Regions from separate parts of the Homo sapiens genome. Here region 2 is linked to region 1. A link means that fine-mapping ties the variant in region 1 to the expression of a gene that starts in the linked region. Tissue or cell type: lung. Region 1 holds a variant in brackets; the other region holds the start of a gene. Each region is shown on its reference strand, or each on the opposite one.

Evidence for each region. PIP is the estimated chance that this variant, and not a neighbour inherited with it, causes the effect. A credible set is the group of variants that fine-mapping cannot tell apart.
Region 2: ACSS2 starts here. The variant in region 1 is the best candidate, but not a certain one, in a credible set for the expression of ACSS2 in lung (TOPMed, PIP 0.84).

The regions. Positions count from the first base shown.
Region 1 is chr11:34,479,241-34,482,152 of GRCh38, forward strand. ELF5 (E74 like ETS transcription factor 5) reads right to left here. Exons shown (of 7, transcript NM_001422.4): 6 at 1,532-1,727; 7 at 1-1,074. The coding sequence ends at 978. Among named protein-coding and RNA genes, the nearest start is that of ELF5, 33 kb to the right of the region's middle. The variant C/T (reference allele first, on the strand shown) is at 1,255.
Region 2 is chr20:34,875,128-34,878,008 of GRCh38, forward strand. It overlaps ACSS2 (acyl-CoA synthetase short chain family member 2), which reads left to right and starts at 1,485. Exons shown (of 18, transcript NM_018677.4): 1 at 1,485-1,696. The coding sequence starts at 1,519. RefSeq lists enhancers at 704-783, 804-853 and silencers at 1,124-1,263, 1,344-1,773.

The DNA of each region.
Region 1 (2,912 bases):
CATCTGGACCTGAGATGGAATCAATGAATTTCGATTTTATTGTGTTGACAGCTTGAATCACAGAAACAGCAGTGATTTTGTAATTGATGCCAGTGTCTGTTGACTAACTCTGCATATCAGATGCCAGCCATCAGTTAGAAGGGGGAATAAACTCAGCAACAATTAATAATGTGGTTAATGTTAAGTGTTTAAGTCCAGAAGGATGTCTGTGGAAGTTTTGCTGAGTGGTCAAAAAGATGCTCTGGTTAGGAAACTTTCTGTGAACCTATGTTAAATCCAATTAAGTCCCAGCTTGATGGCTTAGCTCTTTCATTAATTAAGATACTTTTCTGCCCAGGTGCCGTGGCTCACGCTTGTAATCACAGTACTTTGGGAGGCTGAGGTGGGAGGATCACTTGAGCATAGGAGTTCAAGACCAGCCCTGGGCAACATAGTGAGAACCCGTCTCAAAAAAAAAAAAAGGGATACTTTTCTATGGATTTTTGACTTTAATAATTTAAAATCTAAAGTATGTATGTCTTATATCTCACCCTCTCCTACCATAACCTGCAAACTAATCATGCTTTCCCCCACCTTTGGTGAGCTGCCACAGTTATTTGAAAACTTTTGAACCTTTGGGATGGGAGCATTGGATGTGTCTCTAATGGCAGAATTGAATAGTTTTTCTCTGATCAGCATCAATGGCATGGGCTGTTGTCATTCCACAACTCTAGGAAAATAAAGTTTGATCAAGACACCACAAAAGATCATCCCCTCATCCCCTTAGGGAGAAGAAAGGATTTCTTAAGAGTTTCTGCTCTCACCCTCCATAGACAACAACTCTGAATCCAAATGTAAGCTGAGATGTGGAGAAATTTTATCAGCATGTTTGCAGGTTAAAAAAAAAGAGAAGAAAATGAAGCCTTTCGAATGTCTATTGCAATCTGATTGTTTTAAAAGACAGAAATCCATAAAATGAGCTTGATGCCTGGAGCAGATCATAGCTTGTCTTCCTGCCACCCGTGTGCATTTTTTCCAAATTTGTACACTAACCTTCGGTCAACCCGCTCCAAAATTCCTGTTTTATAGTAGTATCTGAAAAAGCAAGCAGAAGAGAAATTCTGGGAGAGCTTGCACCCTAGGAAAACAACAGAACACAAACACTGTCTCCTCATTCCTCTCAGGTGACAAGGCTGGTCTTTGGTTACCCTGGTATTTTCATGCCCTGTTATCAACTTACACTTAAACCTTTCCCAGACATCTTGAAGACTGAAC[C/T]TCACCATTCTCAGCTCAAAACGTGTTTTTCTTTGTGTGTGTGGGCGTGTGAGATGGCCTGGATTCAGAGTGATCCCTGGGGAATGCTGCCAAGAATGCTAAGGACAGCGTGTCAATTTACAAACCATAATCCTACCTGTAACTAAGAACCAAAGTTTTGTCTCATGACCTTTCCATTATCAAGTAAAAAACCTGCAAAAACAGTGTAATTTTCTACAGCCAGCCATTGTATATAACTCTTCTTGAAGGCTCATAGTATTTTATGCTATTAACTTACCTCAGGGCTCTGCTCAACTTTTCATATGTCATTCTGTCATTTTTCTTCCTTTGTCCCCACATCTTTGCCAGGGCTTCCGATTTAACCACCCGAAAAATTCCTTGTTCCCTATCTTCCCATTCCAGAATGCCACAGTTTTCTTCAGGAGATAGAAGCAGGTCTCGTACAAATTCCCATAGATGAGAACTTTGGAGGCCTTTTGAAAAGGGGAAAACATTAACTATTTACCATTGTTTTTTAAATTAATTAATTAATTAATTAATTTTTTTGAGACAGAGTCTTGCTCTGTCGCCCAGGCTGGAGAGCAATGGTGCGATCTCGGCTCACTGCAACCTCTGCCTCCTGGGTTCAAGCGATTCTTCTGCCTCAGCCTCCCAAGTAGCTGGGATTATAGGTGCCTACCATCATGCCTGGCTAATTTTTTGTATTTTTAGTAGAGATGGGGTTTCGCCATGTTGACCAGGCTGGCCTCGAACTCCTGACCTCAGGTGTTGTACCCGCCTCAGCTTCCCAAAGTGCTGGGATTACAGGTGTGAGCCACCGTGCCCAGCTTGTTTTTTTAATTTTAAGAGAAGAGATGTACAATTTCTCACTAGGTCATGAGAATTGCTGCTTTGTGGAATATTTCCCATTGTTATGACTGATTGCTCTACCTGGAAACTTACTGAGCTGTGACATGTCTGTGTCTCCCATCGAAGCAATTGTGAAACACACATTCAGAGACACCCAATTTACATGACTGGCAACACTGTGACTCACAGATGTTCTATGGAACTACAGTTTAACTTTTATGGAATGAGTGAAATGACAGTCAAATGATCTTTTCATTCTTCTTTCTGACAGGCAGCATGGTTGTACTGATTCCACAGCCACAACTGTCTGGGTGGACTGATCCTGCAAATTCGTTTTTCATGAAAGGCTGGTATTTCTCTTATTCTATGATATGGTGGTTAAGACCAGCTCTGGAGTCCCATTATCTGAGTCTGGGTCCTGAATTCACCTCTTCCTACCTTTATAACCATAAACTTTTAGGGTTGCTTCATCTATAAAATGGGATAATAAAGAGTACCTGTCTCCTAGGACAGGTTAGAGGATTTAATGATTTAATACATACCAAGTGGTTAGAATTATGCCCAGCACATAGCAATTGTTTTCTACACACACATTTGTGAAATTACAAGCTTGACACTGCTCTGGGCCGATCTCTTAGTGCTGGGGAAGCTAATAGGATTGCCAATTCCCGGTGTTTTCTTTGTTATCCTCCTCTGAGATGAAGCCACAGTGGACCCAGGATTGGATCTGGCGCCAGATGGTGGAGCCAGAACTTGAACCCAGGGGGTTTTCATTCCAAAGCTAATGTTCACAACTACGATCATGTCTT
Region 2 (2,881 bases), not on the chromosome of region 1:
GTGAGTGCAGGTGAGAGATGGAGGAGGGTCCTGCCTGACTTCTTTCTGGGGTGGAGGGGCTAGAGAGAAGCTAGAGGTAATTAAGCCCAGGTTGTGGTGGTGGTGGTGGGGGTTTCCCTTGGTGGAGTAAAGAGATTGTGAAGGAAAGAAGAGAATGTGGGCCAGGTGTGGTGGCTCACGCCTGTAATCCTAGCACTTTGGGAGCCCAAGGCGGGCAGATCACCTGAGGTCAGGAGTTCAAGACCAGCCTGGACAACATGGTGAAATCCCATCTCTACTAAAAATACAAAAATTAGCTGGGTGTGGTGGTGTGCACCTGTAATTCCAGCTACTCGGGAGGCTGAGGCAGGAGAATTGCTTGAATCCAGGAGGCAGAGGTTGCAGTCAGCCGAGATTGTGCCATTGCACTCCAGCCTGGGCGACAGAGCGAGAGACTCCATCTCAAAACAAAAACAACAACAAAAAAAGAGAATGTGAATGATTTTTCCTATTTGCACAGACTTTGATATTTTACAAGCCTTAGCTTCAAGCCTGACGAGGAAGTAAAACCAAATCTGGAGTCAAAGAACCTAGCTTTGGCCCTAACTTGGTCGTTATTTGCTCTCTGACTGTGCACCAGTTCCTTCCCTTTCCTGGGTTTGCCATTTGTGCAATTAGGAGGTGGGCTTATTACAAAAAACCTGAAGGTGTCTCCTAGTCTTCACTTATTGAGTCTTGTACTTTAGATCTGGATGGAGATTTGTGAAGGCAAGGAGATTGAAGACATGTCCTCATAAGAGGGAGAAAATCTGAGCTGGTTCCAGGGTGAGCAGAGAGGAGGTGCTGTCGCCAGAGCATGCCCTCAAGGTCATGGGAGAAGTTTTTCCGGAGGACGAGAATGTGGGTGTGGCTCAGAGAGGGGGGACCTGGAGGGAAGGGTGTCACCTGGAAGGAACTGGTGATAGTCAGGACTGTGCAATCAGATCACGGGGCGGCTCCGCGATGGACCTTACTCAACTCCTCTCCTTAGTCCATCCCTTTCCCTTTCGATCCTTGCCTTAACCCAACCCCTTATCTGTCACTCCAAGACCCCACCCCACTCTGGTCACTCCATGGCTCTGCCTCCTCTCCTGTCACAACCAGCCGGGTTACTCCCCATCACTCCATGGGCCCACCTCCTCTCCTGTCCCGCCTGGCCCCGCCCCTCCCTTGGCACTCCACGGTTCCACCCTCTCCCTTGTCACACCCGGCCCCGCCCCTTCTGCTTTCACTCGACGGCGTCACTCCTTCCGGCAAGTCAGCTCCACCCCTATCCCTCGACTTTTCCTTATAGTATTTCTGTCCTTGCCAACCTCGATCCCTCCCCAACCAGACACGGCCCCGCCCCCTCTGGCACCGCCCACCCGCCAGACTAAGCCACTCCCCCACTCACCAGGCCCCGCCCCTCTACGGAGGCCCCGCCTCTAGTTCGGCCTGTTTTCTCAGTCCCGGCACCCGCCGCGACCGCAAAGGCGGCCGCGGTTCTAGGAACTTGACGTGATGGGGCTTCCTGAGGAGCGGGTCCGGAGCGGCAGCGGGAGCCGGGGCCAGGAGGAAGCTGGAGCCGGAGGCCGGGCGCGGAGTTGGTCTCCGCCGCCCGAGGTCAGCCGCTCCGCGCACGTCCCCTCGCTGCAGCGCTACCGCGAGCTGCACCGGCGCTCCGTGGAGGAGCCGCGGGGTGAGGCCCGGCCCGGGCGGGCCTGGGGTGTCAGTGAGGAGAAGAGTGGGGGCTCCCTGGGGGAGTCGGGGGCTCCCTTGGGAAGCTGAGGGGTGGGTGAGGAGATGGAGGTTCTGTGAAGGAAGAATTGCGGTTCTTTGAAAATGGAAAAGGGATTCCGGGAGGAGACGAGGGTTCCATGGGAGCTGGGGAGTTCCCTGCAGACTTGGAGGGTCCGTGGTGGAGATGCGGGTTTTTGCGAGGAGACGCGGGATTCCGTGAGGGAAGAAGTGAGGTTCCTTGAGATTGGGACGGGGAGGTCGGCCAAGAGAGTGAAAGTTTCATGGGAAGAGAAGGGGAGTTCCTGAGGCGAAAAGAGGGTCTCTAAGGGGCGACGGGAGCCTTGAAGGGAGGAGGGCCACGAATAGAACTTTCTTTGCTTCCCTTTCACACCAGCTCAGCCACTGCCTCCTGAGACCCTTAACCTGTGAACTGTTGAGGGCAATAACGGGTCTGGTTCCCATCTTGGGGTCCTCAGATTAGTAATGGAGTCCCCGATCTATTTTTAGTATATCGGACATCCTAATGGAAATTACGCGGTATAAGACTGAACGAGTTACTACGATGTCAAGTTGTTTTATTTATTTTTTTAACTTGGGCTGGGATTGTATTAGTAATAGTTCAGAAGTTCTGATAGATGGTTCCATGTCTGTTAAAATGTATGAGGAAAATCGGCCAGGAGCAGTGGCTCACGCCTGTAATCCCAGCACTTTGGGAGGCCGAGGCGGGCGGATCACTTGAGGTCAGGAGTTCGAGACCAGCCTGGCCAACATGGTGAAACCCCCGTCTCCACTAAAAATACAAAAATTAGCCGGGTGTGGTGGCGGGCACCTGTAATCCCAGCTACTCGAGAGGCTGAGACAGGAGAATTGCTTGAACCCAGGAGGCAGAGGTTGCAGTGAGCCACGATAGCACCACTGCACTCCAGCCTGGGCGACAGAGCAAGACTTTGTCTCAAAAAAAAAAAAAAAAAAAAAAAAAAAAAAAGGTATAAGGAAAATCCCCCTACCCTTGCCCTCAGTCTGGGTAAAGGACAGATAGATAGACAGATAGATAGATAGATAGATAGATAGATAGATAGTTTGTTTTGAGACAAGGTGTTGCTCTGTCACCCATGCTGGAGTGCAGTGGCCCGTTCTAGGCTCA